Linked DNA regions of Homo sapiens. The protein of the gene in region 4 purifies or fractionates together with the protein of the main gene of each other region. This does not show direct contact. Each region holds a gene or a part of one and is shown on either strand. Other genes may lie near its edges. The genes, in order: ACAA2, DDX3X, ANXA2, EWSR1, ZC3HAV1L, CUL2 and USP19.

Region 1 (3,500 bases), on a different chromosome or scaffold from region 4:
CCTCTTCCTTCTTTAATCCAGTGTCTGAGGAGTTTTGACTGTGGCTCGTCCTGCTACACTGTGATGTAAAGCCATTCTGGTTAGACAACTTTCTTGTTCTCTGATGCTTCACAATGCTAGAAACATATGTTGAGAACTAAAATCCTTCTTCTATGTGCTGGAGTATATTGCCTAGTATTAGAATAAAAGAATCTCCAAACTAGAAGGTGCCTTAGGGTTGTCTGAGGTCAACCACTCACTCTATAAGAACTACCTCTAAAAATTCCTGACAAAAGGTTCTCTCTAAACCTCTGCCAGGAAACTTTCAGTAAGAGGGCATACTCTACTGCATGAAACAGTGTGCTGGTCATGGACAACATAAACTAATGATATTGCTTTTTTTTTTTTTTTTTTGGAGACAGAGTTTTGCTCTTGTCGCCCAGGCTGGAGCGCAGTGGCGCGATTTCGGCTCACTGCAACCTCCGCCTCCCGGGTTCAAGTGATTCTCCTGCCTCAGCCTCCCGAGTAGCTGGGACTACAGACACCCACCACCAGGCCCGGCTAATTTTTGTATTTTTAGTAGAGACGGGGTTTCACCATGTTGGCCAGGCTGGTCTTGAACTCCTGACCTCAGGGGATCCACCCACCTCAGCCTCCCAAAGTGCTAGAATTACAGGCGTGAGTCACCCACTCCCGGCCCCAACGAATGATATTTCTTTATATTGAACTAACTCAGCTTACAAAGTCTTCCATCCACCAATTCTAGTTCTCTCCAAAAGCACCAACACAGATAGAGATGTAGTTTCTAGAATATATGCTGCTACCGGTTCTAGAGTCACAGGATGACTCAAGTTACAGACTTCAAATAAATAACCTGAACTATTATCTTTTACTCTTAGAAAAAAAATGGGCAAAACAGGTTACCTTCTACATGTGTATCCCCCACCTCCAGTATCTGAAGTCAGCTAACCTGTAAGTCCCCAAACCTAGTGACTCTCATCTCAGGTAAATTAAAGGCATTCTTTCAATAGTTTTTTATTTGACATTAATTCTGACTGCTTTCCTCTAAAGACACTGTAGTTTGCCAACATCCTATTAAAATGTGTCCCTTAGAATATAAGAATATAACAAAAATAGCATGCATTTTATCTAATCACAAAGAATAGAGGAATTATCTATACATCTACTAATACAAACTAAGACTATAAATTTGCAGCATCACTATTAGTTAAATCGGTGTCCTTGTACAAATAAATAAAAATCACCCCTTCCCAATCACCTACTACCATCTGCCAAAAAAAAACTTGTGACTATACAAATATATGATTATGATGTGAGTGGTACCCACTCATCATCATTAGAGCTGTACAGTGCAAAACCGGCATATCAGTAAGCAGCATCAGTTATAGCCATTTCATCATATTGACATTCATTAGGTGTCTACTAAATACTAGACATTTTATCACTTTCCACACAAAAGCTAATCTTCCCAGCAACTCTGCAAGGTAAATATTATAGCTAACATAGAGGGGACACTTACTATGGAATAGACTTCATGCTAGCACTTTGCATATACTAACTTTATTCTCTCCAAGACAATCTAAGCTCACATTTCCACATCTTGTCAAGAAATTATGGGACTTTCGGCAATGGGTTTGTGATAAGATACTGATCTACAAATGAGACTATTCAAGCATTATACCACTACTGGTATCTAAGTATAATCTTCCAGTTTATGATCTCTTTCATCAAACAAACCAAGCCTAGCCTAAAATATTTCTATTTCAACCTCTCTTTTCATTCCTATTTTGAGAAATTTGCAGTTTAAAGGAATATTAGGAGCAATATATATAACTATAATTTAGAACAGATCCACTCAGTTTTTTACAGATACAAATTCAGATAGTTACAAAAGGCCATAAATACTAGTCGAGTGCATTACAAACGTTTTGTTCTGGTAAATTGGTTATTCTGTACCATGATGCCTTCCTGAATCTTTTCAAGTTTCCTTTCATCCTCCTTCCTTAACAGTCTCTGCCTATTTTTATATCAGTGTTTTCTTTTTTTTTTGAGACAGTCTTGCTCTGTGCCCAGGCTAGAGTGCAGTGATGTGATCACAGCTCCCTGCAGCCTCGACCTCTGCAGCCTCGACTTTCCCAACTCAAGTGATCCCCCTGCCTCAGCCTCCCAAGTAGGTAGGACTACAGGCATGTGCCACCACACCTGGCTAATTTTTACCTTTTTTTCTTTTTTTTTTTTGTAGAGATGGGGTCTTGCTATGTTTCCCAGGCTGGTCTCGAACTCCTGGGCTCAAGCAATCCTCCCACCTTGGCCTCCCAAACTGCTAGGATTATAGGCATGAGCTACTGCACCTGGCCTATCAGTGGTTGCTTTATTTCATTCTTCTTTCCTCTTTCCATGCCTTCTTCCTAATTTCATTAGTTCTGCTTCTGGTCATGGCCTACTATGCTCCTATCTGACCAACCCTCCAACAGATAACAATGAAAAACTCCAGACAATATATAAGAACAACTACTACCTGACGGTCTTGGAAATGAACAAAACTAGACAGGTAAGGAGAAGAGTTGATACTTAGAGGAAGGGAACAGAACAGGGTAAGTGTCCAATTTATTTATAGCAACTAACTTGAAGACTAACAGTCCATGATGCATGGAATGGCTAGAACTCAGAAACAGTCTTACTGGCTTGAAGAATCAGAGAATAAAATTCATGGTAAGCACAGCCACTAGAAAGTGAATGAGAATCTGGGAAAGAGGAGCACCATAGAGCGAGATTCCAAATTTCACATATAAACTCTGCCCAAATATTTGGCTGACTCCTTAGCCATTCATGTGTAGGTCAGACCACAAGCACCTAAGCCAAGCCTTAAAAAACTGAACTTAGATTTAAGCTGCTGCCCACTACAAGGGGAGACATAGTTTATCACGGGGGTGCATGGGGGTGATTTTGTAGGCAAAGTAACTGTCTACAAAAAATAAATAGCCAACCAATCAATAAGTCAGTTCTGTCTGCAGGATTATAACAGAATCCAGTCTCCACAATGTTCCATCTGCAATATTCATAATATAATTCAAAGTTAATCCACATATGAGGAAACAAAAAATATGACAATCAACAGAGACCAATCCCAAGAAGACCCAGACACTGAAATTAGCAGACAAGGATTTTAAAATAGCATTCTATTACAACTATGCTCAAGGATGTAGAGGAAAATATGCTCCTAATAAAACATAGGACATCTCAGTAAAGAAATACATACTATAAAAATCCAAAATGGAAATTCCAAAACTGGAAAATACCTGAAATAAAAAATTCCCTGGATGGGCTTAACAGCAAAATAGAAATGAAAGGAGAAAAATTCAGCGACTTTGAAGATAGATAAATAGAAATTAACCAATCTGAAGAACAGATGAAAAAAAAAAGATTAAAAAACAAAGCCAGAACCTCAAGGTCTGACAAAGGAGGAAAGGCAATTCACTGGAAAAAGGATCGTCTTTCCA
Region 2 (3,500 bases), on a different chromosome or scaffold from region 4:
AAAAAGCTAATAATCACTGGAACTCATACTTACTTTTCTGGCTTCCTCGTAGATCTGTACTGCCAACTCTCTCGTTGGTGCTAATACCAAGGAGATTGGGTATTGTTTGCGGCGCCCATACCTTCCATTTTCCTAAGAAATAAGTTAATTTTTAAGTTAACTCTACCTACCCTGTTTGAAAAGTTCATCACAACATAATTCCCTTTTGTAATTTATAGATTACAGATTACACTTGAAAACTGGTTTTCATTCTACTTAAGTCTTAGCATCATTTAGAAAGCCCTCTCAATGGCCACCTACAAAGTTCTACAATTTCCCATTTTATAAAGAAACATCTACCTTCATGGCCCTCAAAGCCTCGCCTGGACCATCTGAATAAATCTGACTCAAGATGGGCAACAGAAATGCTGCAGTTTTTCCAGACCCTGTTCAAAAACAAACAAACAAATCCTGCTCATTACTTTTAAACAGACATTGGTAGATGACAGTGTTTTTTAACTACCCTATTACTAATAATTAGTACTTTTAGTTTATGCTTAAGTTTTCCAAAAAGTGGCTTCTCTGCTCCACCTCTAAGAGGAGTCAGCAAACTGAGACTATTTTGTAAATAAAGCCTGTTATTTTTATAAATAAAGCTCTTACGGAATACAGCCGTAACCAATAATTTATGTATCATCTATGGCTTCTTTCACAGTCCAATAGCAGCGCAGAGCAGCTGCAAAACTGCATGACCCATAAAAAATAAAATATTTTATTGTCTAGTCCTTTACAGAAGAAATATGATGTTTTACTCTTATGAGTTGAGCTTACCTGTTTGGGCACAAGCCATCAAGTCTCTTTTCTCTTTGATAATAGGAATAGCATGCTTTTGCACTGGAGTTGGGCGAGTATAACGAGTAAGCTCAATGTTTCCCATGATAATTTCTCCCATCTCAACATCACTGAACTGTTAAGAAATTCAATGGGGTTAGGAATGCTATCTAGAGCTATTTCTGTTTTATACTAATAATGGAAACAACCAACCAACAGCTGATTGGTAACTCAGTTTATAGTTTAAGTAAAATTATCACATTATACTTTGAGAAAAACCAACCCCCAGGCTTACTGCACATTGGAGAAGACTTTGGGTTGTTCCTATGTTTGACCCATTTTCTATTTTAGGTAATAAATTATTCATAATGGTGACACTGAACTCAACTTCTCCTTTTCCACAAATCTATGAAGCCTCTGGTCTACATGACTTTATGAAGCCCATCTCACATTCTAATGTAACATGAAAACATTTAACCTCTCTGTGTCTTAAAAAGTCAAGCAAAAATACTCACACTTTCAATATGTGGAGGACAGTTGTTGCCTGTTGCCTCAACTGGAATGTCATCGTATTTCTCAAAATTAATCCCAGTGTTGCCTCCAGAAAAGAGTTCCCTCAAATCAAAAAATGGATAAGTTCATTTGTTATACTAGCTAGTAAGGCTTCATCACAAGTAACATACACTTCAAAAACTTACTGTTCCAAGCGTTCACTTGGTGGGAGTGGTTTTGACCAATCATCTTCATCTGATTTGTCACACCAGCGACTGTTTCCACCACGTTCAAATTTGCCAAAGCCACTTCTGTCACCACGGCTGCCAATGCCATCGTAATCACTCCGTCCACGATCATCAAACCTGAACAGCACAAGCAATTAATCAGAATCATATCATTTAACCATTATCAGATTCTTATCCCTACTCTAGAACTGTATCTGGAGACTTAAGTTATGGCTAACCATAAGGATGTCAACAATCCAATTCTGAGTTACTTGACAAATAAGGCTCTCTAACCAGCATCATTTACATAACCTCGTTTTCTAAAATCAGTAATCTTTACATTTCTATAAAGTTGTATAGCCTAAAAGGCCTCACAGATGCCAAAATTAAGAATAAGGATTTTATTTGAAATCGGCACACAGCTCACAACCTTCATTTAAAGTGCTCATCCAAATATATTTAATGGTAGGGAAAACAAGAAAATAGCACACCAAATATCAATCGTCCTAGTTATACTAGGATGTCACTTAAAGGACAATTCACCTGTGTGACAGACTTTGGATAAAAGGTAGAAAATAATCCTTACCTGAACTAAGATGTTTTTAAGAGTTTTAGGCCTGTTTGCGAAAAATCAGGACACAGGACTAACCACAGCTATTAGGCACGTGGGGTCAGTTCACCACACTTGTGTAATCAAAAATACAAGGTGTTTAGAAATTGTTATAGAGTCCACAAAAATCCCAACCAAATTAGGCCATTCACTAGATGAACTTACTCTTTTAAGTAGAACATATAAAACTCGAGAAATAGAATAACTCATTTCATTATGCCAATGAGCATATTCCTATTTTCATCTAATTTCTAAGTAACAGGTTCAATTTAGTAAAAGCCTCTTACGGCTAAGAAAATACAATGACCAAACAGACATAATGCTTAACATCCAAACAGGTGGTCAGGATAACGACTTATTAAACTGTTATTATACATACACGTAAGGTGATTAAGAAATCACTTACCTTCCCCTTGATCCACTTCCACGATCACTGAAGAAGCTAGACTTCCCTCTTGAATCACTACGAGATCCAAAACTGCTATACGCATCCTTATCTTTGCTAGAACTCCACCCTGAACTGTCTTTATCGTAGAAACCTTTGATTAAAAAAGCACAAATACATTTTATTATTAATTAGAAATAGGAACCATGTTAAGGTATTATCAATCTTTCTGAATTTGAAAGCCTCCACTGACTATCCCTACCATGGCACTGTAAGAGAACCAAGATTTAAAGCTGGTTTACACCCGGACAAAGTTTTTCTTTAATTCTCCCCACTAGAAAATACTGTCCACTGGCCAGGCATGGTGGCTCACGCCTGTAATCCCAGCACTTTGGGAGGCCAAGGCGGGCAGGTCACCTGAGGTCAGGAGTTCGAGACTAGCCTGACCAACATGGAGAAACCCCGTCTCTACTACATATACAATATTAGCCAGGCGTGGTGGCCCACGTCTGTAATCCCAGCTACTCAGGAGGCTGAGGCAGGAGAATCACTTGAACCCGGGAGGCTGAGGTTGCAGTGAGCCAAGATTGCGCCACTGCACTCCAGCACGGGAAACAAGAGTGAAACACCCTTGTCTCAAAAAAAAAAAAATTACTTTACACTAAATCAAGCAATCTGACAGTCTAAGAATGTTTCTCAATGAATACTACCTCTAAGTGGTCAACAGCTTTGCCTGTAACGCATTATGACGTTGTGTGACCATAACAATTTAATTTCCATTCATTTTATAGGTGTGAATGAGTTTACTAGGAAAAACAGTTACCATTGTTTCCATGTTTCTTGGAGGTGGTATTCATTTAGAACATTCATAGACTGTCAGATTACTTGGTTTAATACAGTATTTTTCAGTTTCAATAGTATAAAGTACAAGAACACTAATGTCAAATTGTAGTATTATTTTAGTGGTTCATCTACT
Region 3 (3,500 bases), on a different chromosome or scaffold from region 4:
GGGCTGACCCCCCCACCTCCCTCCCGGACGGGGCGGCTGGCCGGGCAGAGGGGTCCTCACTTCCCAGTAGGGGCGGCCGGGCAGAGGCGCCCCTCACCTCCCGGACGGGGCGGCCGGCCGGGCGGGGGGCTGACCCCCCCACCTCCCTCCCGGACGGGGCGGCTGGCCGACCCCCCCCCCCCCCGCCTCCCTCCCGGACGGGGCGGCTGGCCGGGCAGAGGGGCTCCTCACTTCCCAGTAGGGGCGGCCGGGCAGAGGAGCCCCTCACCTCCCGGACGGGGCGGCTGGCCGGGCGGGGGGCTGACCCCCCCCACCTCCCTCCCGGACGGGGTGGCTGCCGGGCGGAGACGCTCCTCACTTCCCAGACGGGGTGGTTGCCGGACGGAGGGGCTCCTCACTTCTCAGACGGGGCGGTTGCCAGGCAGAGGGTTTCCTCACTTCTCAGACGGAGCGGCCGGGCAGAGACGCTCCTCATCTCCCAGACAGGGTCGCGGCCGGGCAGAGGCGCTCCTCACATCCCAGACAGGGCGGTGGGGCAGAGGTGCTCCCCACATCTCAGACGATGGGCGGCCGCGCAGAGATGCTCCTCACTTCCTAGATGGGATGGCGGCGGGGAAGAGGCGCTCCTCACTTTCCAGACTGGGCAGCCAGGCAGAGGGGCTCCTCATATCCCAGACGATGGGCGGCCAGGCAGAGACGCTCCTCACTTCCCAGACGGGGTGGCGGCCGGGCAGAGGCTGCAATCTGGGCTCTTTGGGAGGCCAAGGCAGGCGGCTGGGAGGTGGTTGTAGCGAGCCGAGATCACGCCACTGCACTCCAGCCTGGGCACCATTGAGCACTGAGTGAACGAGACTCCATCTGCAATCCCAGCACCTCGGGAGGCCGAGGCTGGCGGATCACTCGCGGTTAGGAGCTGGAGACCAGCCCGGCCAACACAGCGAAACCCCGTCTCCACCAAAAAAAAACGAAAACCAGTCAGGCGTGGCGGCGCGCGCCTGCAATCGCAGGCACTCGGCAGGCTGAGGCAGGAGAATCAGGCAGGGAGGTTGCAGTGAGCCGAGATGGCAGCAGTACCGTCCAGCTTTGGCTCGGCATCAGAGGGAGACCGTGGAGGGAGAGGGAGGGGGAGGGGGAGGGGGAGAGGGAGAGGGAGAGGGAGACTCAGCAGCAATTGGATTTCTATGTTTACCTTGGCTACTCTAAAAATGAGAGCTAAAGTTATAGATGCTACAGTTAAGATAGCAAGCATATTGGTATGGACTTGCTTTGAAATGAGCATATACATTTTAAAAAGTTATTTATTTTTATACCCAGAAATTCTAACTTTATACTTTTTGATCTAACACACTTGAGAATTCAAAATACTTCCTCTGTCAATCTGCTGTTTGTCTTTGTCTCAAGCGTTACAGTTTTGACCTTTCTGTTTCTTCAGGACTCCTCTGATTTTCTTCAGGCCAAGCCATTTGTAGTTTGCAAGTGACTTTGTAGGTTTAGCAACTCTACTCTCTCACCCAAGAGTTACCTATCCAGTTATGGCAAAGACTGTTTCTTTCATTAAACAAAGTTATTAATCAGTCAGGAGAGAGACTTTTCACATTCTGAATTTACAAACTGTGCTTTCTTAAGTTAAATGGCATGTTAGGAGTATTTCTGATATGAAATTGGAAACTTGCAGACACCAGAAGGCATTGCTTATCTTTGTAAATACACATGTTCCAATTAAAATAGGTACTAAAATATTTTGGTGGCACCTCAAAACTCCCAATTTAGATTTAATTTAGATTAAAACACTTACTCTTTTTAATAAAGTTATAAAATTAATTATTAAAATTGCCTATTGAAGATTAAAGGCAGTGGAACGTTTATTTTCCTTACAAAACAATTTTGTCTTCAATAAGTGTGATTGTGTTAATCAATTATGCTATTAAAAATACAACTGCCGTGTTAAATCTGACTCATTTGTCATGACAGTTTTTATAATTATAGAAATTATACCTAGCTGCTTATATAGCCATAATCCTGCAATAAGTATAAATAATTATCTCTATTAATTCAGTTTGCAGTTACTCTCTATTAAATCCCGAGTTAAATGGCAATTTGGGGACCTTCATTTAAAATCCTACTAAATCTCTGTTGTTCCATCTGACTGCCAAAGCCCCACATATGCACCTCCTACTGTTGATTCCAGAAACCAATTTATGAATAAAATAGTTTTTAAACCACAAGTATTTAAAAGGTCCATTTAAGCTTGAGGTTTGAGGCTCTCAAGAAAAAAGGAAAGAGAGTGTACACATTGGGTAGAGGATGCTGACGAAAGAGATAGAACAAATCTTGGTGTCTGGGTATTTCAGTTTGGAAAACAGTATATAAATTTCAGTTTGAAAAAGTCTGCTTGACACCTTCTATGTAAGCCCAAAATACTAGAGTATACTGAGTAACGATTAACAACTTGTATTTCCATAGGTGTGGATGAGGTCACCATTGTCAACATTTTGACCAACCGCAGCAATGCACAGAGACAGGATATTGCCTTCGCCTACCAGAGAAGGACCAAAAAGGTACAGGCAATTCCAGGGATGGAGGGCATTTCTTGTTGAATTTTTGTTTCCTCAGACATTGCTTTTTCTTTTCATGAATTGTGGCTCTCATGCGCAAAAGACTTGTGGGACCCTTGGATATCTAAGATTTTCTTCTTAAATCCTTGTAAGAGTCACTGCACATGTGTGTGTGCGTGTGTGCACGCGCGCGTGCACCTCAGGTCATCAGGCATTAGGTTCTCATAAGGAGTGTACAACATAGATCCCTCGCGTGTGCAGTTCACAGTAGGGTTCGCGCTTCTGTGAGAATCTCATGCCACCGTTGATCTGAGAGGAGGCAGAGCGCAGATGGTCACGCTCGCTTTAGAGTGCTTGGGAGCTCCTGTGTAAGGACAGTACCCTCCCCCAACCCAGGCTACCTGGAGGGAGAGCTTCTGGGAATAGAAAGTTAGGAATAGGGAACAACAACAATAACAACAACAGGCACCATTTATTGAGTGCTTACTTTGGGCCAGGCACTGTGCTCAGTTTTGTACATGTAGCAACTCATTTCATCTTTATGACTTCTGCTGGTTCTTGATAAGATGTTTCTAATTTAATTTTAGGATACTAGCCTCCACTGAGTGTTGATCCTAACAAGCTCCTCTCATTTTAAAAATATACACTTGAATTCTTAAGCTTTTTGCAACGAGTGGGCTTAGTTGTTAGTTCATTTGGTCTGCAAAGCTATCTTCAACATGCCATGCTCCTACTATTTAAAGGGTCTTTGTGTGCTTTTTCCCTTTGCTTGTCCACTAGTGGTTAAGAAACAACCAGTGCGTGTTCGTCCTTTATTTTGTCAGTTGTAGGAAATTTTATTTTTAAGGACGTGCTGCTTTATTTTTAACTTCTTGCTATTAAAAGCTTTTGATTTATTCTTGGACAGTGCAGTAAGTGTGGCTTCCTGCAGCTCCCGTTTGACTT
Region 4 (3,500 bases):
TATTTTTTAGTATCTTGGAATAATGTTATATATATTCAAGACATACCATGGATTAAAATAATTCATAACACTTAAAACAGAAAATAAAATGTGTCTGGACTAGAAACCAACCAATAGACAAACATGATACATGCAGGGTGGCAGTCTGCTCCTCTAAATAAATCTCATCATGCAATCTATCCTTCAGGGAACAGGGGAAAATCAGCTGGGGAGAAATCACCTGAAATACCTTTGGGAAGGTAAATAACTATTATTAAGGCTTGAAACAAAGTAATATTAAATAAAAAAACCTTTCCCAAAATCATATAAAGAATAGGACATGGATCTGCAAATGGCACCTGAAGCAGTTTTTCATTAGCACCTTGCTGTGTGTGATGTTAGAAAGTTTGGGGGTTCAACAAATGAAAACACCTAAAGGATTAACATTACAGGGTTAGACAAGATGGAAAGCATTTCCCATGCAAGAATGAGCAGGATAGTCAAACCTGTACTGGTCCCTTCTACTGTGGAAAGCACAAAACAAAAAGTAGAGGGTACACTATCAGATGAAGCAAACATGTGAAAACCAGTTTGATTTTTAAGCAGCTCAATTTAAGAAGACTCATTCTTACTCAGTATTAGCATTAGCAAAATCTTTTACATAGTCTCCATTTCATCGTGAGATTATTCAAACAGTTAAAAGTTCTTTTCTCTCTTGGAATTTATCCCACCCACATTCTATTGGAGATCTCTCAAGACTATAAGAGTAGGGAAGAAAGAGAAAAAATACCTCTTCCTAAGAATAAAGGATTCCCCAGATGCCAAGGTATGGACCAGAATATACATCCGAAAGCATGACTAATAAGCTTCTTAGCCAATGCCCTAGCCAGAACGACCCAAAAATCTCTCCAAGGCAGGCCTTACCAGTGGGAGGCTGTCCATAAGAAGTTGCATAGGCGGTCTGCCCATAGGTTGCAGTGGTCTGAGCCTGGGTATAGCTGACATCAGTGGGCTGTCCATAGGTTCCATAGCTTTGTTGCCCATATGCCTGCTCCAAAAAAAAACGAATGCAAGAACTTCATACATGAACTTTTGTATTTTAGCAATAAAATGGACTAAATTGGAGAACCAAAATCAAAAACATTCCTTTCTAGAAGATTAAAAAAACAAAACAAAAACAACAAAACAAGACAAATAATCACAGTATCATGAATGTTATCCCTTATCTGGTTCACTCATATTATGGTAAAGTTAGCTACGGAAAAAGCTCATTAGGTAAGTAGGCAATGTCATTCACAGCTTCTCAAAAGGGGGAAAAAAAAGATAATCAGGCAAAACCTCAGTTAACTATACATGAGATTAACAAGACACTCTCAAGGGAAGAGCAATAAGGGCACAGGTGTATTAACTGCTAGCACTTAGCGTAGCACAGTTTTAGTGATTGGAAACAAAAGGTACGAAGACAAATGAACAGAGAAAGCAATGAAGAGGGCTAAAATCTGTCAGAAAAAATTGAAAACCAGATTTTCAGCCTGACAAAAAGACTTTAAAACTACTATACCACTTCAAAGAAAATGAACCAGAACGCTGTATGTCCTCTTATGGTGGGCACATCAAGAGTACTGTCTTTTGAACTTAGACATCCATAATACTTAAAATCAGGCAAGGAAGAGTTGTTCTTTCAGATATTAGCATGATTATTCTCTAGGTTTGTTTAAATGACCAGTTATGTAAGATCTGCCAGAGACATCACATTCTGCTTGTCCTAGAACATGTTTCCATGGCAGTTATTAGTATCCATTTTATGGCATGGATCATTTCAGAATTCAACATTATCTTGAAAACACTAGAAGGCTAATTTCTAGAATCTGTTGGCCTAGGCTTTTCAACAGACTCTTCACTGGAAAGAGCTCAGCAGCTCCTTGGCTAGGTCGCCAGTTTTTAGAGCTAACCCCGCCACTTACTGTGCAACCACTGGCAAGTTACTTAATATCTATGCACTGCAATGTTCTCCTCTGCAGAATGGTCATATCATCCTCTTCCTTTGCAGAATTGCTATGATGAATAAATTCACTAAATTTAAACATAATGAAGAAGGACCAAGCATGGAACAGGGCACCTAACTTGAGAAATCATATTAAAAAGTTATAAAGAGTCAATTATCAGCTTCTGAATGGTTTCATTTATGATGGCACAATGGAGTCCTTCGCACTCCCACTGTGAAAGTTTAAAATGCCTGGGTATTTTACTATTCCAAACACATTACTCATTTGTTTTACTGGATAACTGAAAGATAACTGGATAATATACTGATTTTACTTGGAGGTGCAGCTACATGTAATTATTTTAAAGATTACCTGGGTGGTCTGTGCATATCCTTGAGTGGGCTGGGCGGTGTAAGCACTGTAGCTGCAAAAGAATTAAATGCAATAACTTGAATAGAGAACATTCAAATACCACCTCTACAATTATAGAAGGCTCCATATTCAAAAAATATTAATCACACACAAAATACGGTTATAAAAGACTGACTTACCCCTGCTGCGCTGCAGCTTGGCTATAGGTACTGTAATCTAGAGGAAAACAAGGAGGAAAAATAGTGTAAAGTTAGCAGAAACAAGGAGAAGAGAAAAAAGGGGGAAAGAATTCACGTGGCAGGAAGAATTCTTTAAACTGTAGGGAGACCTGCCAACACAGGTCCAAATGAGTCCCCCTTACCTCTCAACATCTAACAGAAAAAAAAGTCTAAACCAGTTAAACTCAACATTTGACTGTGGGACTAGCTAATGAGGTCAAGATCAGCTGATTTGGCAGGTATACTTTTTATGTTCCCATGACCACAAAACCCATCCCAATCCCAACTGTCATTTAAAATACAGGATGATCATCAATATCACAGACTGACAACAAGATCTACTAACAGGATCAGAAGTTTCTACCCTCATATAAAACGGAGGCATGCAACAATAATACAAAGTTTAACACTAGATTGGTTACGTTAGAACCTACCTCTCCTCAAAAATTAGTTTTCACTCCCCTCACTTTAGCAAGTTAGACAAACCATCATTCCCTAGCTCAACGACAGTGAAACGGAATGGCAGACAAGAAGGCAGTCACCACACTCCAGTGTTTTAAAGGGTTTGCTGTGTCAGAACTATATTTGTGCAGCAACTTAAAAGCTAGATATATTATAAACCCTGGTGAAGCAGAGCTAAGGCAGAACCCTGAAGACTGGCAAAGAAGAAAAAGCATTTAGTCTTTCTGGGAAAAATTTGGTAACACCATTGTCTTTCATACAACTCAAAATGATTTCAACTTAAAAAAAAGACATGAATTTTCATCCCTTATCTAAGTAAACCTCCCTATAATTTTCCTTTTCCTATGAAATTTATAACATGCATCCAAAGGGACCAAAAACTGGTCCACTGAGGTGTCTACAAGTAGTAAAAACAAACGGAAAATAGTTTTCAGAGCGCTACTGCATTAAAGTTAGATAAATTTAGTTTTTTTTTAAAGGCAGT
Region 5 (3,500 bases), on a different chromosome or scaffold from region 4:
GATGATCACTTGAGCCCAGGAAGTCAAGGCTGCAGTGAGCCGAGATCACGTCACTGCACTCCAGCCTGGGCAACAGAGCAAGACCATCTCAAAAAAAAAAACTGTTAGAAAAAGCCAAGTAGTTAAACAAACTATGATAATATTAATGTATCTGTGCAAAAACATGATTATGTACGATGTGAACAAATATAGAAAGATGCTTATGAGACAATATTAAGTGAAAAAAAAAAATGAGTGCAAAGTACTCTAGGATTGCCACAATATAAATTGATAGAAAAACAATGGTGGACCACAGAAGTCAGCAGAGCTCCATCTACCCAGCCTGAGGAAAGCACCTAGGAGCTGCAGATAGCAGCTGCCATCTTCAGCACTTGCCCTGGACTAGCCCCATCTGCACTCAATTTTAGCCTCTCTTTGCCTGTTCAATGTCCCACCCCATCCCCAACCACCCATGCCCAAATGTATTCTTCCAAAAGGACATTTTCTCCTTTTCCATCTTCTTTACTTCTCGCAAGACACTGTGAGGTAGATATTATTATGACCATTACAAATCTATCATTAAATGAATGAATGGTTACAAATTAAAGCTAAACAGAAGGCTTGTTTTCAGATCTTCCAAGCTGGACAAGCTTCTTCTTAGTTCACTGACCCCCTTTAAGGTTTACCTGGGCAGGGCTTCTTGGCCGACTGAGCAGGGACAGAAGCCAGAGGACCAGCTTCTGCAGCTCCAGCTGCGTGCACTCCTTGCTTCTCAAGGCCTTGTGAATGCTCAGTCGAAGGTGATGAATTATCTACAAAGAGGAAAGGGATAAGTTTTCCTACGATACCCCAAGTTTCATTTTACGTTGGGAGCAACAGCCCAGCTAACCAGCCATCAGACAAGACTCCCAACACATGGATTTGGAGAGTTCATGTCTTCTGGATTTTAAAAAATTGTATGTGTGTGTGTATAAAAAATAGAGAGAGAGAGAGCAAGCGGAAAGTCACTATGTCACAGGAGAGACTCACCAAACGAAACCAGATGAAGACAATGACAGGCCCTAGACACAGCATAGGGTAGAAGGTACCTGCCACCATTCACAGTTCCCTAAACAGCCCGACACTGGTATATGCAGAGCCCTCCCTGTCTGCACTCACTACGTCTGACACTAACATCCCAACACATGAAAACTCGATGGTGAAAGCTTAGCAACTCCGCCTTTGGTGATTTACCTTTCCCAACAGCAATTCTCCTAAGCCTACCACCCACTGATTTCTAGGTACCAGCAAATGTAACAGAATAAGTAACTGAATGCATTAGAATTAAAAGAACACCAAACCACACTTTGTAGACTAAAAAACTACTAAAGGCCAGGTGCAGTGGCTCACGCCTGTCATCCCAACACTTTGGGAGGCCAGGGCTGGAGGACTGCTTGAGCCCAGGAGTTCAAAACCAGCCTGGTCAACATAGCAAAACCTTGTCCCTACAAAAGAAAAATTTTAAAAAATAGCTGGACATGGTGGCATGTGCCTGCAGTCCCAGCTACCAGGGAGGCTGAGCAGAAAGATCACTTGAGCCCAGGAGTTCGAGGCTGCAGTGAGTCATGACTGTGCCACTGTACTCCAGCCTAGGCAACAGAGCAAGATCCTGTCTTCAAAAACAACAATAAAAATTACTGAAAGACTATGGGAATATATTTATAATGGGAATATGCAATATTCCTAGCAATATGGGAAAATATGATGTTGTATAAAGTAGAAATTTAAGATATTAAATTAACATATACTTTGAGCACAATTGGATTCGTGTTTGTATATAACAGAACTGAAGGGCCTATAATAAAATTGTAACAAGTATAGTAGATTAGAGTGAGCAAAATCATATACAATTTTCATTTCCAGTTGCTATTTTCCAAATTGTTCTGTAATGTCATTAAAATTACTTAAAAATTAACAAAGCCAAAAATTATATTTATGACAAGAAAGCCATCCCTACATTAATCTTACTTTTCCACTCACCGGCCCATCTCCTTCCTCTTTTTCCTAACTATGCCATTAAAACTGTTCTACTAGGCCGGGCGTGTGGCTCATGCCTGAAATCCCAGCACTTTGGGAGGCCAAGGCAGGCAGATCATGAGGTCAAGAGATTGAGACCATCCTGGCCAACATGGTGAAACCCCGCCTCGACTAAGAATACAAAAATTAGCTGGGCATGGTGGCGCATGCCTGTAGTCTCAGCTACTCGGGAGGCTGAGGCAGAAGAATCGCTTGAACCCGGGAGGCAGAGGATGCAGTGAGCCCCGATCGCGCCACTGCACTCTAGCCTGGGCGACAGACTGAGACTCTGTCTCAAAAAAAAAAACAAAAACAAAACCTGTTCTACCTACTTCCTGACATCCAATTTACCAACAAGCTACTGTTCAATCACTTGGGTAGATTCTAGTAGCTAGCAGTGACAGTGCTAAAGATAAACTCCATCCCTTCTCTCCTTTGGTTAGGATCACCGTTCTATACAATACAATGTTGCCTGTTCTAAACTTTCCCAAGAACAAAGATGAAATTAACATAGGAACTGCTTTGCCCCCAGACTCACTTTCATGTCACTGTTCTTACTTCTTCACAGTGAAGCATCGCAAAACCATATCGCTGATACTTCTCTGTCCTTCTTGGATATTCCTACCTGTATTTTCAAGCATCTTGTGCAGCTTCATATGCTTGTAGGTGGAGATTATCTGAAAATTAACAACACTTGGAATATTCAGTCCTTGGTCCTGTAGCAGCTTCAAAGATGCAGCATGGATAAGCTGATGGGACCGTTTGCAGGTCTGAAGTTTGCATTCTCCTTTCACAAAGGATTTGCACACATGAAACTTGTTGCATTTATCCTTGAGGTTGCAGTAGCCATACAGGGCTTCCCCTTTGTTGTAGAGCAAACAGACCTGGTACAGAAATGAGGGAACACCTGAAATATTAGTTTTTCTTTTTTTTTTGGCAGCGGGGAGATGGAGTCTCGCTCTGTCACCCAGGCTGGAGTACAGTGGCACCATCTTGGCTCACTGCAACCTCCATCTCCCGCGTTCAAGCAATTCTCCTGCCTCAGCCTCCCGAGTAGCTGAGAATACAGGCGTTCACCACCACAGCCAGCTAATTTTTGTATTTTTAGAAGAGACGGGGTTTCACCATGTTGGCCAGGCTGGTCTCCAACTCCTCACCTCAGGTGATCTGCCCACCTCAGCCTCTCAAAAGTGCTGGGATTACAGGTGTGAGCCACCACACCCGGCCAATATTAGTTTTCACTCTATCTTTTAAGCCAAAAGACTATAGCTTCTCTAGCTAAACTGAAGACTAAATGACATCTTCTGATCACCAGTGGCTGTTAAAATCTTTGGGGGAAAGCCTGATGATAGTGTAGTGGTGCTAACCATACTCCCGCTGCTGTGGGCACTGGCTGCTTGTGACTCACAGCTGCCCCCTCTTACTTTACACTCTCAGCTGAACTGCCCTCTGTCCCCAAAGCCTGT
Region 6 (3,500 bases), on a different chromosome or scaffold from region 4:
CTGAATTAAAACAAGGCTGAGATATTTTTAAAAATTTACATATGGCAAATCCATGTTTCATTCTTTGAAAAGCAACCTACAATAGAGAAAGACTAAGTCACTGAATTAATAGATGTAACTAACATTATTTATAATGTTAAACTATATAAAAGAGGCCAGGCACAGTGGCTCACACCTGTAATCCCAGCACCTTGGAAGGCCAAAGAGGGCGGATCTCTTGAGGTCAGGAGTTCAAGACCAGCCTGGTCAACATGGCAAAACCCTATCTCTACTAAAAATATAAAAATTAGTCAGGTGTGGTGGCAGACACCTATAGTCCCAGCTACTTGGGAGGCTGAGGCAGGAGAATCACTTGAACCCAGGAGGCAGAGGTTGCAGTGAGCTGAGATCGCGCCACTGCACTACAGCTTGGGTGACGAGTGAAACTCTGTCTCAAACAAGCAAACAAGACACAGTATCAGTCTGAATTTTTAATTCTCCAGAATAACAAAGCTTAAAGCAAAAGGAAATATTCCACCTCTCCTCCTCCAAAAGAAAAATCAACAGGGTTCAAGGCACCCCGGAAGTTTCTACAGATCCAACACCACAATCTTAACCTAACACTACTACTGTCTCAAAACTTTTAAGAATCAAAGGGATTGTCTCCAATAAGCCTTTCCCAATGAAAAGCCAAATATAAAGTACTGATATAGAAATCTATACATTCTTAAAGGTAACCCAAAGATTATGCTAACTGCAATATGACAGATACGTTACCAGTAAGATTCAAACCCAGGCACAGAGCCAAATCACTCTGAATAGATATTGTGATTAACTGATTACTGAGAGAGGGTTCAGTCATACATCTCATAGATCAATAACTTGTTATAAATCTCATAACATTCCAAATCGCTGCTTGTTTTTCCAAGATTTAACATGAGCCAGTCATAAGTCCTCATAATATTAAGATTCTAGGGCTGATCCTGTCATCAATTTACTTAAAAACAACTGATAGTTGGACAGGCCTGGTGGCTCACACTTGTAATCCCAGCACTTTGGTAAGCCGAGGCAAGTGAATCATGAGGTCAGGAGTTCAAGACCAGCCTGGCCAACATGGTGAAACCCCGTCTCTACTAAAAATACAAAAAAATTAGCTGGGGGTGGTGGTGGGCGCCTGTAATCCCAGTTACTTGGGAAGCTGAGGCAGGAGAGTCTCTTAAATGCCAGAGGCGGAGAATGCAGTCAGCCGAGATTGTGCCACTGCACTCCAGCCTGGGTGACAGTGTGAGACTCCATCTCAAAAAATAATAATAATAAAAAATAACTGGCTGGGTGTGGTGGCTCACACCTGTAATCCCAGCACTCTGGGAGGCTGAGGCAGGCAGATCACAAGGTCAGGAGATTGAGACCATCCTGGCTAACACAGTGAAACCCCGTCTCTACTAAAAAAATACAAAAAATTAGCCAGGCATGGTGGCGGCTGCCTGTAGTCCCAGCTACTTTGGAGACTGAGGCAGGAGAATGGCGTAGACCCAGGAGGCAGAGCTTGCAGTGAGCTGAGATCGCGCCACTGCGCTCCAGCCTGGGCGACAAAGCGAGACACCGTCCCAAAAAAAAATAAAAATAAAAATAACTGTTAGGGCCAGGCGCGGTGTGGCTCACACCTGTAATCCCAGCACTTTGGGACACTGAGGAAGGCGGACCACAAGGTCAGGAGATCAAGACCATCCTGGCTAACACGGTGAAACTCCATCTCTATGAAAAATACAAAAAATTAGCCGGGCATGGTGGCAGGCGCCTGTAGTCCCAGCTACTCGGGAGGCTGAGGCAGAATGGTGTGAACCCGGGAACCAGAGACACAGCCAGACTCTGTCTCAAAAAAAAAAAAAAAAAAAAAACTGATAGTGCATATGAAACATTGCTTTCAATCACAGCCAGACATTTTTCCAGAATACACAAAGAACAGGCAGATAAGGTAGAACACAAAACAAACAGTGCAAACTTTTGTAAAGTCTCACAAAAAGAAACAGCTTTTTACAGCGAGGGAGGAAGGGCATAAGGGTTGAAAAACGGTTGGGTACTATGTTCAGCACCTGAGTGACGGGATCATTGTATCCTAAACCTCAGCATCACACAATATACCCGGGTAACAAACCTACGTGTGTACCTCCTGAATCTAAAATGAAAGTTGAAAAAGATAAAAATAAAGAAACAAGCAGCCTGGCCAACATAGTGAAACCTTGTCTCTACTAAAAATACAAAAATTAGCTGAGAGTGGTGGAGGGCGCCTGTAGTCCCAGCTCGGGAAGTGGAGGCTGCAGTGGGCTGAGATTGAGCCCCTGCACTCCAGACTGAGAGACTCTGTCTCAAAAAAAAAAAAGAAACAAGAAACAAGGCCGGGCACAGTGGATCACGCCTGTAATCCTAACACTTAGGGAGGCTGAGGTGGGAGAATTGTTTGAGCCCAGGAGTTCGAGACCAGCCTGGGCAACACAATGAAACTCTCTTAGTTCTGTCACCCAGGCTGGAGTATAGTGGCTCACTGCAGCCTCCACCTCCTGGGTTCAAGTAATCCTCTCACCTCAACCTCCCTAGCAGCTGGGATTACAGGCCTGCACCACCACACCTGGCTAATTTCTGTATTTTTTGTACAGACAGGGTTCGCCATGTTGCCCAAGCTGGTCTCAAGCTGCTGGGCTCAAGTGATCCACCCACCTCAACCTCCCAAAGTGCTGGGATTACAGGCCTGAGCCACCGTACGTGGCCGGAAACAGCTTTTTAAACAACTCCACACCTGTAGGTCAAAAACTTAACGAGACCAGCCTGGCCAACATGGTGAAGCCCCATCTCTACTAAAAATACAAACTCCAGCCTGGGTGACAGAGCGAACACCATCTCAAAATAAATAAATAAATAAATAAATGAACTTAACAAGGGCAGGGACCAAATCAGAAAATGCTGCAGTACTCCACAGTTTTATCCTCTTTCTACATTCTCTGTGTTCTCATCCTATTTCATAACTTAACTACTATTTAACACTCTAAAAAATACAAATGTCAAAGTAAAGTGTACTACTGTTTCTGCAAAGTGGGAACAATATTTGCTTATATGTCCACAAATATTTTTTTCCAAGGAGATCTAAGAAACAGCTAACAATGTTTGGCTCCAAGGAAAGCTGGATGACAAGGGTACAAGAAGTGGAGGGAGATTTTCATTCTATTCCCTACTGACAATTTTATATTTTGGTTTTCTGTTTGTTTTAGAGACAGGGTCTCACTCTGTCACTCAGGCTGGAGTGCAGTGGTGCAATCACAGATCACTGCCACTTCCAACCTGGTCATCTGGCCTCAGCTTCCCAACAGCGGGTACTACAGGCGTGCGCCACCACGCCTGGCTAATGTTTTTTAAATTATTTTTTGTAGACATGGGGTCTCACCATGTTGCCCAGACTAACATCTTAAATTTTGAGCCATGTGAATACAGTTTTTGTTCAAAACATTAGTATACCAATAAATAAATGC
Region 7 (3,500 bases), on a different chromosome or scaffold from region 4:
TCTGTGTGCAGCTACCCAGTGCCACCTCTACATCCACAGGTCTCCATCACTTTTGACCCGTTTCTTTATCTGCCGGTGCCCTTGCCACAAAAGCAAAAGGTTCTCCCTGTCTTTTATTTTGCCCGAGAGCCCCACAGCAAGCCCATCAAGGTGAGGAGTAAGCCCCTACCCTCTGGGCTGTTCTAGAGAACGTGGCCCACCTCCCTCACTGACTGCCCTTTTTGCCACAGTTCCTGGTGAGCGTCAGCAAGGAGAACTCCACTGCGAGCGAAGTATTGGACTCCCTCTCTCAGAGTGTTCATGTGAAGCCTGAGAACCTGCGTTTGGCGGAGGTATCTTTGTCCTTCCTTGGGCTATCACATGTGTGGATGTGTGTGTGTACTCACCACAGACGTGTGTACAGTCATTGGCATCTACAGACATACACATGGGCTGGGCACAGTGGCTCATGCCTGTAGTCCCAGCACTTTGTGAGGCCGAGGTGGGCAGATCACTTGAGCCCAGGAGTTTGGGACCAGCCTGGGCAACTTGGTGAAACACTGTCTCTACAAGAAATAAAATTAGCTGGGCATGGTGGTACGTGTTATAGTCCCAGCTACTTGGGAGGCTGAGGCAAGAGGCTCACTTGAGCCCGGGATGTGGAGGTTGCAGTGAGCAGAGATTGCACCACAGCACTCCAGCCTGGGTGACAGAGTGAGACTCTGTCTCAAAAATAAATAAATAAATAGATAAAAAAATAAAAATAGGGCCAGGCGTGGTGGCTCATGCCTGTAATCCCAGCTCTTTGGGAGGCCAAGGCTGATGGATCACAAGGTCAGGAGATCCAGACCACCCTGGCTTACATGGTGAAACCCCACCTCTACTAAAAATACAGGAAAAGTTAGCCGGGCGTGGTGGCACATGTCTGTAGTCCCAGCTGCTCAGGAGGCTGAGGCAGGAGAATCGCTTGAACCTGGGAGGCAGAGGTTGCAGTGAGCCGAGATCGCGCCACTGCACTCCAGCCTGGGTGACAGAGTGAGACTCTGTCTCAAAAATAAAATAAAATAAAATAAAAATAGACATACACATGAGTATGCCTGTGACTGTACAAAAACAGGCGATGTGCTGTTATTTTTTCTGTGCAACAGAAGTGCCCTCAGTTCCTAGCCATTATCAGGGTTTATTCCCCTTTGTGGTGGTGGATCCCAACTGCATTTCCCTTTTTAGACAAGGAGCTTGAGCTGCAGGACTATCCCTATGTTCGCTCTGCCTCTCCCTCTATCCTGCTGCTCTCTCCTTTTATCCCAGTTGTGTGTGCTAGCTCTCCCCAGGGGTTCCTAGCCTTTAGCCTGACAGTGTTGGTTTTCTTAGGGGTAAGAGTGGGGAGGAGGCTCTTTGAATGTGGACCCTCCATGATAATATGTTACAGTCTTATAAGGCTATGCTAGTTATAGCAGGGCAGAGTCCCTCAGTGTGGAGAGCTGGTGTGGTTGATATCTGCCTCACACCTGGTCTTTCAGGCCCTCTGATGCACCAGGCTCCTTATGGCATTGGGCACTGAGACAGGTGCCAGCAGAGGCATAAGCCTATTTGGGCCTACAGACCTCACCACTGCCCACATAGACCCAAGGCAGGGCCAAGCCTTCTTAAACTCTGGGGCAGGGCTAGGGAAAGGGCTTATCCTCACGTGGGATCTGTGTGTTCTCTGTCCCCAGGTAATTAAGAATCGTTTTCATCGTGTGTTCCTACCCTCCCACTCACTGGACACTGTGTCCCCATCTGATACGCTCCTCTGCTTTGAGCTGCTATCCTCAGAGTTGGCTAAGGAGCGGGTAGTGGTGCTAGAGGTGCAACAGGTGAGTGGGGGCCAACCTGATGGCACAGCGCCCTGGTGGGTGGGGCACTTCTTCCTGGTCTTGCTGAGCCAGACGACCCACCCTAGCGCCCCCAGGTGCCCAGCGTCCCCATCTCCAAGTGTGCAGCCTGCCAGCGGAAGCAACAGTCGGAGGATGAAAAGCTGAAGCGCTGTACCCGGTGCTACCGTGTGGGCTACTGCAACCAGTGAGGACCCCCATGGTCTCCCCTACCCTTTCTTTCCACCTTCCATGTGCCACCCTGCTCCTTCCCTTCACACCAAGGCACATATGCTTAAGCTTTCTACTTGCCACCCTACTTTACCAGGCTCTGGGGGAGGCAGGGCTGGCGTACCCAGTTCCCAGGGACTATGACTAGCCCCCAGTATGGAGTCATAGGAGATGGGGCTAAGGGCCTATCCTTGTCTTCCTCTTCCCGTCAGGCTCTGCCAGAAAACCCACTGGCCTGACCACAAGGGCCTCTGCCGACCTGAGAACATTGGCTACCCCTTCCTGGTCAGTGTACCTGCCTCACGCCTCACTTATGCCCGCCTCGCTCAGTTGCTAGAGGGCTATGCCCGGTAAGTGCCCAGTGGTTGGACTAGAGTGGTGTAGGTGGGGGCAGAGGTGCTAGATGGGCTGGTCAGGAGTCTTACTTGCGTTGTTCTCTGTTGCCAGGTACTCTGTGAGTGTATTCCAGCCACCCTTTCAGCCAGGCCGCATGGCCTTGGAGTCTCAGAGCCCTGGCTGCACCACACTGCTCTCCACAGGTTCCCTGGAGGCTGGGGACAGCGAGAGAGACCCCATTCAGCCACCTGAGCTCCAGCTGGTGACCCCTATGGCTGAGGGGGACACAGGGCTTCCCCGGGTGTGGGCAGCCCCTGACCGGGGTCCTGTGCCCAGCACCAGTGGAATTTCTTCTGAGATGCTGGCCAGTGGGCCCATTGAGGTTGGCTCCTTGCCAGCTGGCGAGAGGGTGTCCCGACCCGAAGGTAAGATCCAGTGAAAGGCTCTAGAAGCTGGGGAGGAGGATAAGGGAGGATGGAGGGGGCTGTTGTTTAGGGCCTGGTGGGCCTGGTGAGGCCCTGATGGGCAGGGAAGCTTTGATTATCATGTTCTCACACAGCTGCTGTGCCTGGGTACCAGCATCCAAGTGAAGCTATGAATGCCCACACACCCCAGTTCTTCATCTATAAAATTGATTCATCCAACCGAGAGCAGCGGCTAGAGGACAAAGGTGTCTGAGGCTGTGGGTGGGAGCCATGGGGTGGGTTGAGCTGGCTGTTCTCCACAGCTGCATGACCTCTCTCCCTGCGAATCTCCAGGAGACACCCCACTGGAGCTGGGTGACGACTGTAGCCTGGCTCTCGTCTGGCGGAACAATGAGCGCTTGCAGGAGTTTGTGTTGGTAGCCTCCAAGGAGCTGGAATGTGCTGAGGATCCAGGCTCTGCCGGTGAGGCTGCCCGGGCCGGCCACTTCACCCTGGACCAGTGCCTCAACCTCTTCACACGGCCTGAGGTGCTGGCACCCGAGGAGGCCTGGTGAGAACAGAGCAGCAAGTAGATAAGGGGGCAGGATGGAGAAGAGAGAGACTTGCTGGTCCTGACCCAATCTCTGTCCCCACCAGGTACTGCCCACAGTGCAAACAGCACCGTGAGGCCTCCAAG

What was found.
Region 1: the proteins of EWSR1 (region 4) and ACAA2 fractionate together in Homo sapiens (co-fractionation; one large-scale study listed by BioGRID). This does not show direct contact.
Region 2: the proteins of EWSR1 (region 4) and DDX3X purify together in Homo sapiens (affinity purification with mass spectrometry; 2 studies listed by BioGRID, with this or other methods). This does not show direct contact.
Region 3: the proteins of EWSR1 (region 4) and ANXA2 purify together in Homo sapiens (affinity purification with mass spectrometry; 2 studies listed by BioGRID, with this or other methods). This does not show direct contact.
Region 5: the proteins of EWSR1 (region 4) and ZC3HAV1L purify together in Homo sapiens (affinity purification with mass spectrometry, with the first as the bait; one large-scale study listed by BioGRID). This does not show direct contact.
Region 6: the proteins of EWSR1 (region 4) and CUL2 purify together in Homo sapiens (affinity purification with mass spectrometry; 2 studies listed by BioGRID and IntAct, with this or other methods). This does not show direct contact.
Region 7: the proteins of EWSR1 (region 4) and USP19 purify together in Homo sapiens (affinity purification with western blotting, with the first as the bait; one study listed by BioGRID). This does not show direct contact.

The regions. Positions count from the first base shown.
Region 1 is NC_000018.10:49,803,534-49,807,033, forward strand, and holds part of ACAA2 (3-ketoacyl-CoA thiolase, mitochondrial), read right to left. Parts: intron 1-3,500. UniProt on the Homo sapiens protein: In the production of energy from fats, this is one of the enzymes that catalyzes the last step of the mitochondrial beta-oxidation pathway, an aerobic process breaking down fatty acids into acetyl-CoA.
Region 2 is NC_000023.11:41,340,662-41,344,161, reverse strand, and holds part of DDX3X (ATP-dependent RNA helicase DDX3X), read right to left. Parts: intron 2,679-3,500; coding exon 2,546-2,678; intron 1,668-2,545; coding exon 1,509-1,667; intron 1,426-1,508; coding exon 1,326-1,425; intron 947-1,325; coding exon 811-946; intron 426-810; coding exon 340-425; intron 133-339; coding exon 34-132; intron 1-33. UniProt on the Homo sapiens protein: Multifunctional ATP-dependent RNA helicase. The ATPase activity can be stimulated by various ribo-and deoxynucleic acids indicative for a relaxed substrate specificity.
Region 3 is NC_000015.10:60,363,487-60,366,986, reverse strand, and holds part of ANXA2 (annexin A2), read left to right. Parts: intron 1-2,463; coding exon 2,464-2,558; intron 2,559-3,500. UniProt on the Homo sapiens protein: Calcium-regulated membrane-binding protein whose affinity for calcium is greatly enhanced by anionic phospholipids. It binds two calcium ions with high affinity. May be involved in heat-stress response.
Region 4 is NC_000022.11:29,271,268-29,274,767, reverse strand, and holds part of EWSR1 (RNA-binding protein EWS), read right to left. Parts: intron 2,553-3,500; coding exon 2,516-2,552; intron 2,389-2,515; coding exon 2,337-2,388; intron 1,031-2,336; coding exon of another isoform or gene 1,028-1,030; coding exon 904-1,027; intron 504-903; coding exon of another isoform or gene 486-503; intron 1-485. UniProt on the Homo sapiens protein: Binds to ssRNA containing the consensus sequence 5'-AGGUAA-3'. Might normally function as a transcriptional repressor. EWS-fusion-proteins (EFPS) may play a role in the tumorigenic process.
Region 5 is NC_000007.14:139,026,043-139,029,542, forward strand, and holds part of ZC3HAV1L (zinc finger CCCH-type antiviral protein 1-like), read right to left. Parts: intron 2,919-3,500; coding exon 2,660-2,918; coding exon of another isoform or gene 2,589-2,659; exon of another isoform or gene 2,573-2,588; intron 792-2,572; coding exon 666-791; intron 519-665; coding exon 502-518; 3' UTR 1-501.
Region 6 is NC_000010.11:35,083,842-35,087,341, forward strand, and holds part of CUL2 (cullin-2), read right to left. Parts: intron 1-3,500.
Region 7 is NC_000003.12:49,110,824-49,114,323, reverse strand, and holds part of USP19 (ubiquitin carboxyl-terminal hydrolase 19), read left to right. Parts: intron 1-39; coding exon 40-150; intron 151-230; coding exon 231-332; intron 333-1,694; coding exon 1,695-1,835; intron 1,836-1,921; coding exon 1,922-2,040; intron 2,041-2,275; coding exon 2,276-2,413; intron 2,414-2,510; coding exon 2,511-2,824; intron 2,825-2,958; coding exon 2,959-3,069; intron 3,070-3,157; coding exon 3,158-3,374; intron 3,375-3,460; coding exon 3,461-3,500. UniProt on the Homo sapiens protein: Deubiquitinating enzyme that regulates the degradation of various proteins by removing ubiquitin moieties, thereby preventing their proteasomal degradation. Stabilizes RNF123, which promotes CDKN1B degradation and contributes to cell proliferation.